Linked DNA regions of Homo sapiens. The protein of the gene in region 1 interacts with the protein of each later gene in a biochemical or structural test. Each region holds a gene or a part of one and is shown on either strand. Other genes may lie near its edges. The genes, in order: MAPKAPK2, CEP131 and ETV1.

Evidence for each region.
Region 2: of the proteins of MAPKAPK2 (region 1) and CEP131, one has a biochemical effect on the other in vitro, tested with the Homo sapiens proteins (one study listed by BioGRID).
Region 3: of the proteins of MAPKAPK2 (region 1) and ETV1, one has a biochemical effect on the other in vitro, tested with the Homo sapiens proteins (one study listed by BioGRID).

Annotation. Positions count from the first base shown.
Region 1 is NC_000001.11:206,687,822-206,691,569, forward strand, and holds part of MAPKAPK2 (MAP kinase-activated protein kinase 2), read left to right. Parts: intron 1-3,748. UniProt on the Homo sapiens protein: Stress-activated serine/threonine-protein kinase involved in cytokine production, endocytosis, reorganization of the cytoskeleton, cell migration, cell cycle control, chromatin remodeling, DNA damage response and transcriptional regulation.
Region 2 is NC_000017.11:81,221,209-81,224,956, reverse strand, and holds the start of CEP131 (centrosomal protein of 131 kDa), read left to right. Parts: upstream 1-1,991; 5' UTR 1,992-2,188; exon of another isoform or gene 2,189-2,311; intron 2,312-3,748. UniProt on the Homo sapiens protein: Component of centriolar satellites contributing to the building of a complex and dynamic network required to regulate cilia/flagellum formation.
Region 3 is NC_000007.14:13,982,933-13,986,680, reverse strand, and holds part of ETV1 (ETS translocation variant 1), read left to right. Parts: coding exon 1-43; intron 44-268; exon of another isoform or gene 269-504; coding exon of another isoform or gene 505-565; intron 566-3,748. UniProt on the Homo sapiens protein: Transcriptional activator that binds to DNA sequences containing the consensus pentanucleotide 5'-CGGA[AT]-3'. Required for olfactory dopaminergic neuron differentiation; may directly activate expression of tyrosine hydroxylase (TH).

The DNA.
Region 1 (3,748 bases):
AGAAAAGGGGAGGAGACCTCTATTCTACAGTGTGCCGAGGCCAATGCTGGGGGCTAGGGCAGAGCTGGAGGGCAGGAGCCCAGCCTCTGCTGGGGTTCAGAAGTCTGCTATGTTGCAGCCCTGAGAGTTGATGGGAGCTGGCAGCTGCTTAGATGCTCTCCTCTCTGCCTATAGTCGGTGACCTCTTAGCCCTGTTAAGTGAAATCAGCATTTGAAAAAGAGTCCCAGCTCACCCTGCTGCTTCTCTCCCTCCACCTCAGAGAGCTCCCATTTAAATGCTTTTGGTGGGTGCTTTGACCTCACCTCACCATCTCTCCTGGCTGCTTTTGCTAAGTTCTGAGTCATGCTTCCAGTCAGAGTTGCAAGGGACTTGAAAGGTCATTTTGTCCAGCCCCCTTATTTTGCAGAAGAGAAAACCAAGGCCCAGAGTGAGGGAGTGACTTGTTCAAGGTACCATAGCCATTCACTTGGCAGAGGCAGGATTGGAACCCAGGTTGCCTGACTCCCAGTCTCAGGCTTCTTCCCACTTACTTCCTAACTGAGCCACGGGCTCAGGCACATGGCCACCTGCTGCTCCAGGGTGCTTCCAGCCTGAGGAGCTGTTCTGTCACCTCAGGCCCTGACTGACAAGAGGGGAGGTCAGCGAAGGGGGCTGGATGGGTATTTGCTGCTCCTGAGAACAGTCCCCAAAGTTGGAGGGGAACTTCAACAGTAGCTTCATGCATTTTTTTAACCACTCCCTCCCCCTTTTAAGAGAGTATTTGATAGGCACCTTACTTACTATTTTTTGTACAAGAACATGGGAATTCTATTATTTTTATTTTTATTTTTTTTGAGACAGAGTGTTGCTCTGTCGCCCAGGTTAGAGTGCAGTAGCACGATCTTGGCTCACTGCAAGCTCTGCTTCCCAGGTCCACGCCATTCTGCCTCAGCCTCCTGAGTAGCTGGGACTACAGGCGCCCGTCACCATGCCCGGCTAATTTTTTGTATTTTTAGTAGAGATGGGGTTTCACTGTGTTATTCAGGATGGTCTTGATCTCCTGACCTCGTGATCTGCCTGCCTCAGCCTGCCTAAGTGCTGGGATTACAGGTGTGAGCTACCGCGCCCGGCCTGTATTACTTCTTTGATAAGGACACCTAGTCTCAACCCACTTGTGTATTAATTAGTTGTATTCCCCGGGAGGGTTCCTCAGCTGCTTGCCGCTTCACTGTGTCATGGTGACCCTTAGGTGTTAGCTCAACAAATTTAATTAAAGACTGTATCGTTGTTCTCTGCTGTGCAACTCTGATTAGGTGAAGCATGTTACTGCTTTATAAAATATAGAATGTTGTCGTAACTTATCTCTGTGTATCTTTCCATTGCGTGGATTAGAGAAAACAAGGTCCTGTAGTTTCTTTTCCTTTCCTTTCTCCAGCATTCCTCTCTCCCTAGGTCATGGAAGTGCCACTGCGATGTGGCTTCCTTTGTTCTGGTGAAGGGGAGATGATTGGAGCCTCTCATGATTATTCTGGATGCTGTTGGAGGGAAATGCCAGAGCTCCCACATCCCCACAGTACAGGCACCATCTCCTTTCCAACACACCTCATACTGTGTACCTGTGGAGGGCAAGACAGTTAGTGTGGCTAGGTGAGAGGCAGTGTCCCAAACTGGAGTTTGCTGGAGTTGTCACAAGGTTAGGAAAATTTCATTGACCAAGCCAGCCTCTTTTATATGCAATATGGTTACAGGTAGGTAACAGTTTGCTGAATATCTATCATAAGCTTAGTTGCATGGAGGATACACATGTAAAAAATGGCCTGTAAAATTTTGAGTCAAGAAACTTATTTAGAGAAGGTGAAATTAACACATGTAGGCTAGGGCTGCACTGTCCAATCTGGTAGCCACTACCCTCACATAGCTAATTAAATTAAAATTAATTAACATGAATGGATTAAACTAAATTAAATTTGAAAAATCAGTTGCTAGCCACACTTCAAGTGTTCAGTAAACATGTGGCTAATGGCTATCGAATTGAACAATGCAGAAGAACATTTTCATCCTTGCAGAACGTTCTCCTAGACTTTGTTGGTCTGGGAGCTAAATCGTGTGGCTGGGAATAGAGGAGCTTTGAAAGAGGGGAATCTGTGGTGACTCCAGGAGCTAAGGGAGGCTCCAGCTGGGGTCAGTGGGACATGGCTGTGCCTCTGAGGAGTGAGCAAGTCTGTGAGAGGTGTGGTGACATTGGCCTGGCTAGAACTGAGGGGAGGAACAGGAGGTCAGAGTGGTCAGGGGTTGGTGGCTCCAAATTGAAGCTAACTCATCTTGTGTCAAAGCAGGCTTTAAAGTGTTTGAGGGGCATGAAGGTGTCAAAAAAGGTTAGGAATCATTGAAGATGGGCTTACAGAATTATGAGGGAAGGGTCAGGTTTGTGGTTTCAGAGATCCTGTCCCTCCTGGCCGTAGCCCTGACCCCAGCCCTGACCCCTGGCTCCTGCAGCAGGGCCCTTGGCATCCACTGAGGCAAGATTGAAGCTGGGTCAGCTCACTGTCCTTTTTTACTTGTGAATTCTGGGCTTTGACTGAGCTTGGAGACAATCTCCAGCTAAGATACGGGATCAGTGGCTGACAGGAGGGGAGAGACAAGCAGTCCCTGGGCCTTAGGGCCAAATATTGGTGGGTGTCTAGGAAACAAAAGAACCCCTTTGTGGGAGGAGGAAGGTATTGGGACCTGTGATGTTTCTGCTACTTGGGACCTGAGAGGTTGGGCCATCCATAATTGATGATTTTTCTTATGAAGCAGGTACAGGGGATTGGGAGGAGGGCCTGGAAGAGCCCAGCCTCAGAACTGCTGGAGGCAAACTTAATCCTTGGGCTAGGGGAGGGGCCAAAGCTCCTGTTAGCCAGAGCCCAGGAGTGTGCTGAGTGGGTGCCAGGAGGAATGTCAGCCAAGATGGGGAAGAGCAGGGCACAGTCGTCTGCATCTGAGCCATTGCCCAGTTCCCAAGCAGCCTTGCCATGCTCTGAGCTGGGGTTCTTCCTGGTGGCGTGATGTCTGTGGTGCAGGATTCACTCTATTCTCCTACCTTTCCTCTACTTCAGGCCCTGCCAAGTGTCATGTGAGGTCTCTTTTCCCCCTCTTCCCTGCACTGTATCTTTCCAGATGGTTCTGTGTCCTGGAGGGAGGTGGATGGGCAGAGAAGAGTTGTTCTTTGCAGGGACTGCAGCTTTTCTTGGTAATGGTTTGAGGCCCAGTGGCAAAGCAACCCACACTTCATAGTAACTTAGAACCCACACTCCCTGGTCATCTTTCTTGACTCCTTGCACATCACTGAGGAAGAAGCTGGCCTAGTGCAGAAATGTTCAGTGGCATGTCCAAGGTCTTACATGGTGTCAGCATCCGAGCCACATCTTGAGACCTGGTTCCCTGGGACCTGCTCTTGGTCTGGGCCCCTTTGGTTTTTGGTTGCTAGAAGACTGTAGACCTGGTGGAGCAAAACTGAGCTCCACTAACGCATCAGCTAGGATCTTTCCACATGGGTTACCTTGTAAATGGGGGCATTGGTGAAGAGAAGGGGCCATGTCACTGGACAGTGTAATAACGTATGGCAGTTATAGAACCCAAATCAGATTGCTGTGTACCTTTTCTAGTTTTTAGGAAAATACTGGTATTTTGTATTTTAAGATATATATATATATATATATATACACACATACACAGATATAGATATGTAGAGATGAGCTTGTTACCATGGGTTATGTGCTAGATAAG
Region 2 (3,748 bases), on another chromosome or scaffold:
GATGGGGAGCAACTGCAACACCTGTGGCACTGGTGGGAGCGTAGAGCTGTACAACTTCTTTGGAAAATAGCTTAGTAGGCCGATGTGGTGGCCCACGCCTGTAATCCCAGCACTTTGGGAGACCGAGGTGGGTGGATCACCTGAAGTCAGCAGTTCAAGACCAGCCTGGCCAATATGACAAAACCCTGTCTCTACTAAAAATACAAAAATTAGCCTGGCATGGTGACATGTGCCTGTAATACCAGCTACTCGGGAGGCTGAGGCAGGAGAATTGCTTGAGCCCAGGAAGTGGAGTTTGCAGTGAGCCAAGATCATGCCATTGCACTCCAGCCTGGGCGACAGAGGGAGACTCCATCTCGGAAAAAAAAGGAAAAAAAAGAAAAAGAAAATAGCTTGGCGGTTTCCTTTTTTTTTTCTTTTTCTTTTTTTTGAGATGGAGTCTTGCTCTGTCGCTCAGGCTGGAGTGCAGTGGTGATCTCCGCTCACCGCAATCTCTGCCTCCTGGGGTCAAGCGATTCTCCTGACTCAGCCTCCTGAGTAGCTGGGATTATAGGCAGACGCCACCAGGCACGGGTAATTTTTTTGTATTTTTACTAGAGACGGGGTTTTGCCATGTTGGCCAGGGTGATCTCGAACTCCTGACCTCAGGTGATCCGCCCACCTCAGTGTCCCAAAGTTCTGGAATTACAGGTGGGACCCACTGCGCCCGGCCGGCAGTTTCTTATAAACAATCATTTGATCCAGCAACCCCACTCCTGGGTATTTACACAAGAGAAATGAAAAGTTGTGTCCACACAGAAGCCGATGAGTGAATGTTTATGGCAGCGTCATTCATAATTGCCAAGCACCAGGAACAATCTCTGCGTCCTTCATTTGATGAATAAAACCATCAATAAATAAAACCATCTGAACCGGTGGTTCACACCGGTTACAGGATACCACTCAGCAATAAAGAGGAACCAGCATGAATCTCAAAATGCGAAGTGGTAGAAGCCAGACCCACAGGCGCGCTGCGCGACATCCCTTTTGTGTGACATTCTGGAAAAGGCTGCCTCTAGGGATGGAGAACAGAGAGAACTGAGCAGCCGCCACCAGCAGTCAGCAGGTACGGGATCCGGAGGGAGAATGTTCTGTAACTAAAGTTACACAACTCCACTGCACACCAAAAAATGTGGATTTTACTGAAACCAAACTTTTTATTTTACAGAGCACTGGACTTTTTAAAAAGCGGGGGCAGGGGAGACCAGTGTGCTGTGACTTTTAGGGGAAGGATGGCTTCCCTGGAGAGGACCTGGGCGGAATCCCCAGGGCTCCCGGAGAGAGGGGGAGTCACAGAGCGGCTACGCACGGGGCGCAGCGTTAAAACTTTGGAGAAGGAAAAAAAACAACAAAGCAGCGCGAAGGGAAGGAGGTCAGGGAGGTTAGCAAGGCGCCCACACGCCCTCGCAGTCGTACTGAGTAACGAGGGGAGTCGCGCACGTGGGTGGGGACAGAGCGGCCTAGGACACTGGGGGAGCCCCGGGCCGCGGGAGTGCGGCGGCCTGGGGGTGTCGGGGAGCCGAGCCGAGGCCGCGTGCTCCTCGCGCCCTCCCTGGTGTCTCCTCCCCAGGCCCTGCGTGCCCCGCCCACACCTGCCTTGCCCCGCCCACATCTGCCTCGCCCTACTCGCCCATCACACCCCCACCTCACGCCCCGCCCACAACCGCTGGGGCCCCGCCCCTGCCCGGCCAGCTCCTCCCGCCGCCCTCGGTCCCCCGCCCCCTATATGACCCGCCCCTTTCCAGCCGCGTCCAATCGGCCGCTCTCTGTAGTCGCGTCCCTCAGCCATCCGCCGCTCCTCCCACGCTTGAACTTCCCGAAGGACAGCCGAGCGGCCCAATGAGCTCCCGGGACGGCCTGAGCGGGAGCGTGAAGGGCCAATCCGGAGTCGGCGCGCGCAGGAAAGGCGGGCCGGCGTGACGGGCTGGGGAGGTGGTGCCAGGCTGGTTGCTAGCTGCCGCCGCTGCTCACCCCGGCCGTCCGGCCGCTTCATTGTCACCGGGCCTCGGGGCAGTGTTGGGGGTGGCGGGGCGCCAGGTCGCCGACCCGAGGTTTGGGCGCGACTGGTTCCGCATCCCCTCCCCGCCGGCCGAATCTGCAGGCCCCGCGCGCCAGGCAGGCTTCGCGGCTGCGCCCCCGGCCCGCGCAGGTGAGGGGGGCCCGGGCAAGGGAGGGGGTTGCAGGGCGCACGGAGGTTGGAGGGGTCCGGAGCCCGCGCAGGTGGGAGGCCCTGGTCCAGTGATGAAGTGATGGGGATCCGGGGCACGCACAGGTGAGTGGGGGGATCTGGTGCCCGCGCAATTGAAGGCGGGATCCGGGGGAAGTGAGGGGGATCCAGGGTGCGCACAGGTGAGGGAGGTCCGGGGCCCGCGCAGGTGAAGACAGGCTCGTGCCTGAGGGTGTGGGTCCCCACCTCCATCCCCTCCACCCTCTCCACCTCCCTCCACTCCCCTCCGGTCCCCAGGACAACATGGAGTCCAGTCCCGGCATCTCTGGCCCGGCTGCCTTAAGCCCTGGGGAAAATGGGGAGATGGGAGCTGCCCTGAGGACAAGTGGAGGGCTCTGCTCTGCGCGTGGGCTCTGGCCTCTCTGTCCAGGGTCAGGGTCAGGGTCAGGGTCAGCCCACCCTGGGAACCAGGTCCTGGCGCTGGTCATCAGTCCCCGCCCCTTCAGGTCCTGGGAGGGACACAGTTTTATCCAAGATGTAGTGGCCTCCCAGGCCTCCCTTCTTCTGGCTTGGAGGTTTCCATGGAGAGGCCCCGTTCGCCATCCCAGAGCCGCTTGCAAGTGTGGCTGGGAGAGCAGAGTCCTGGGCTCCAAGGGCTTGCATGGGTCCAGCCAGGGGTGGACAGTGCCCTGCAGGAGGAGGGTGTTAAGTTTCTTCCGCACAGCCGGAAGTGCATAACTGAGGACTGGGACCTGGTCAGTGGCAGGGTCAGCCTCTAGGGAGTAGGGGTATCCATCGCTCCGTGGAAGGGACCTTGGGGGACCTGCTGTGGGGTGCCGGGCTGAAGGAAGCCCAGGGTGACCTTGGGCGATAGGCTGGGTGCCTGCTGGCCTACTGGAGGCCACCGTGGCAGGGAGGTAATTCTCGAGGTTGGTCCCTGGCGCCAGCTTCTCCCGTTCATCTACGGGTTCAGCTGAGTGCCTTTCCCTGCAGGTGCTGGGGTTGCTCAGGAGCCACACAATTCATAAACCAACTGTGTGCGGCCACAGGAAGGGAGTCCGAGCCGGATGGGGAGTGAAGAGTGATGGGTGCTCAAGGAAGGCCTCTGAGTGCAGGGAGGGAGTGTCCTGAGACCTAGAGGCAGGGGACTGGCCGGGGCCAAGCTGGCTGAGTTTGAGGAGAACCAGGGAGGCTGTGTTGGCTAAAGCCACAACAAAGGGGCACAGCAGGGGAGCTGGCGAGGTCACAGAGAGTACAGGGCCAGATCTTGCAGGAGTTGGATGTGTAGACTTTATTCTCTGTGCCTAGGAAGCTGTTGCAGGGTTTTTGGCAGGGGCACATGCACGAGCTGAGACCCGTTCAGAAAGATCAGAAAGACTCGTTCAGAAAGAGGTGCCATGTGGGGACGGGCTGGGGGCCGGCAGGGTTTGCTCTGAGAAGTTCCAAAGTAAGGAAGCCAGCATCCCCAAGCTAATCCCCTCGATCGATCGTCAGAACCCCCGTCCCCTGCTGGAATAACACATTACCCAGGGAGTGTTTGCC
Region 3 (3,748 bases), on another chromosome or scaffold:
TTTCAAGATCTAAGTCAATTACAGGAAACATGGCTTGCAGAAGGTAAGGCAAAATTTGCTTTAAAAGGGGGGAAAGCAACTCTAGAAGGAGAAAGAAAAGAAGTCCTGAACTTGCTGTCTTAATATTCAGCCCAATTAATTGAGCTCTAAAAGAGCCACCTCATGTGTCATGCATACATTAGAGCCTCTGATGAGTTTGTCTTTGGGGACTCTGGGGCTGTACTACCCAGTGTCATCACAAATTACCAGGAGAAATTGCTTCCAGCTCACAATCACATCTGCTTTTGGCAAGAACTAATGCACCAAGACTTCAAGTTCTAAGCCTCTGTTCAGATTTTAATTGCAATTGATCAGGTTTATATTATTGTACCTCCAGAGACCTCCTAGAGCCAGAACCCGGCTGGCTTGCTGTTTCCTTTAGAGCAGCGCATATCATTATTTGGTGTTCTGGTGGAGGACTTTTCTGATGGCAGAAATTAGTTTCTCTGGGTTCATCAGGACGGGATGCTTCAAGATTTAAGTGCAAGTGTCTTCTTTCCACCTTGTTCACAACACAGAACGTTAGGTGTGTATCTAATGCTTAGGAAATCTATGGGTTTAAAATAAATGGGAGATATGAGGATTTTAAAAATGTTTTCCATGTGTTACTATTCATGTTATGTTTGCTGAAATTGACCTTTGCTATTTTGTCAGTTTTATTAGGATTTATTTAATAGAGCAAGGATACATTTAAAGGCATTACTTTCATTTTGAATTATTTTTTGTTAAAATTTTGTGGTGCAATCTGTTATATCTTTTATCGTATGCAACTTTATAGGAAAATGAGATTGCTTCATAAAGCTTTATACAACTTCAAAAATGCCTAATGTTGAGGGACTTCTGTTGGCATTCATAATTTGAAATTTTTCTTTTGGATTTGGCATACAAATGTGAAACATTAATTTTATGGTGTGGTTTGTGGGAAATACAAAGAGAAAAATTATAGATATTTAAGCATTGAGTGTATAACAGTATTATTTGTGTGTTCACATTATATGGGAAACATGCAAATTTTGGAACAGATTTTAAGATGGTTAAAAAGGAGAGAGTGGGTCTCTTTAAATGGAACCCAGGTGTTACTGTAGCTACTTTGAGGCAGACTGACGTGTTTTATCGGTGGTCTTGAATGCAGTTGATCAAGTTGCTGTTAGCATGTAAAATAAGTTTCTTTGTTTTGCTGATAGTCTAGTTCTCCAAAGAGCTTTTTCAATCTTTATCAATCTTTAAAGTTAAATAGCTTTCCTAATAGTCCTTTGAAAGGATGATTGTATTTATATGTTAATGAAGGTAAGACTTACTGAAAGTTTTGGCTATATTTAAGGATCATTTTGCTAGTCTGTGTAAATGAAACTTACTGCAATACATTACTTTTTATTGCAACATAAGTCATATTCAGATACAAGTTTTTCAAGGAAAATTTGCATGGAGATTCTTGTATTAACTTATGCCTATTAGTTTTGCAAAGTCAAAGGTTGTGAGAACATTACCTTTATGAGAGAATTTATTTGCTTCTCCAAAATAACTTAAAATATCTATTTTAATTGTTCTGGAAGGTTTGTTGGTTCTTAGATGTTTAAATCTCATTGATTCCAAGTCAGTGCACTTGCTGGCAGATTTTGAATGTGCATAGCAACTCTGTTCCTGGAATTTTAAAATGTGGAATCTGTGACAGACTCTTACCATTTTATAATCAGTTTCAGTACTTTTTTTTTAACTTTTGACTTACTTGTTTTGTGTCTTGTAGCTCAGATAAGTGATTGCAATAATTTATCCAAATTTATCTTTTAAAACTCTGCAGAGAATAGTCTTTCTCCGGGATTATTAACATACCTGTAAATCAAACCTGAAGATTTAGCACTACAAAAAATAATCCTAGAAAATGATCAGTGTATTTGGAAGAACATGGACCTTTACTTAGAAAAGAATTATAATTTCAATTAAGTTCAGGAATTAATCATGAGTGTTTTATATGAATTCCCAGGTGGACTACTATTTACAAACTATGGATAAGATTTCATTTTAGAATAATTTAAGCGTTTTCAAAACAGTTTACGTTAATTTATCTAATCACGATGTAAGTAAAAAGTTGTTAACGTGATGTTTAAAACCTAATAGTGAGAAAAGAGATCTTTTTAACTTCTTGTTTCTAGACTCCACTTTTTTTTTGTTTTGAGAAATTAAATATATTATTTTGCACTGATATTTTAACTTGACTTATCCCACCTCTTGAACGGTATTAGCTAAGAAGAGATCCCCAAATTACCCTAGTTTATTTGTAGTGAGATGTGTCCATTTATGTCTTTCTGGACATCCAGAAATTAAAACATTGCCAAATTGGCAGACCATGAACCGTTTACATATTTCTTTTCATAATGCTCCATAGCCAAGAAAGTGACCATGGAATTTTAAGACATCTTGACCCTTTTAAAAAAGATCATTGGCAGTTAATCAAGTTTCTCGCATGAGTTAGAATTCCACTGGGAAGTTAAACAGGTCTAAAAACCTTATTAGACATAAGAGTCAAGTTAGTTGTCATATGTCATATGATAATTGTGTTTTTGAAAAATTATAAAAGTCCTCAAATATTTGTGAAATGATATCTTAGCATGTTTAGTTTTTTTTTTTCTGTAAGACTATTCATAAATTTTACCCCAAATGCAACATATGGATTAGTCATGGGTAATTATTATGGATTATAAAATTTCTTTTATTTCTAAGGGGAAGTTGGAATAGATAAGGCAGGACTGTTTGAGGGTTGGGATGGGACCAGTATTTTCAGTTCAGTAAAGTCCTCTGTAAAAATATACTTGCATTCTACCAAGAAAGTTAATTCCCATACAGAGATTTAAATATGTTGGTGGAGAATATAACTTTACATTAATATCATTTCCCAAGAAATAACACTGCAATTTAAAGGTTTTTTTTTTAACATCTAAACACAGTTTAAAACAATTATCTTATTCTGAAGAAAACTGCAAAGTTAATGTTTTCAGTAACCACAGTAGTTAAAAAAAAAAAAAGTCAGGGAATATGCCAATTTTAAAATGTTGCCATAGTCACTTTATGTTATAATTTTACTATGTGCAATTCTTTATTGATTCTTTGTCTTTTAAATTAGACTGCTACTGACAGAAAGGCAATTGCAATTATTTGATCCCATGAAATAATGAGTTTAAATATCAATTCTATCAACATCATGGTGATGTCTTATTCTTAACAACCTGAAAGTCATAGTTAAAATGGAACCTCTTGTGTATCCAGAACAAAAATAGAAAGATGTAAAAAATTAAGACAGGATTGTATTCTTCCAAATTTGCTTCTTAAAGCTCACCTACTAACACAACTTAAAGGGAAATAATAATTTTCAGTATATATCTGATGTAAATGTGTAGCTGCTCTCTTGACTGTTATTTTGTTTCCGGTCTAGATGTTCTTTCAGGTTCACTTTCATCAACAATATTCTCTGTCTTCAGGGTAAAATGTTTTCCAGTGGTTTTGTATTGAGTCAAGTTTAGTGCTGCCTCCACACTTCGAGTAGGAGTTTTATCTGCAAGAACAACCTTTCTACAGCAAAGCTTATTACATCATACGAATAAGGGTTTTTTCCTTTTGGTTTTATGTGACCTTCAAACAACAGTCAGGTCAACTTAAAAGCAGAGATGTCATTACTTTCCCCTCAATTCGCTTTAATGGCTGATGGTAAATTTAT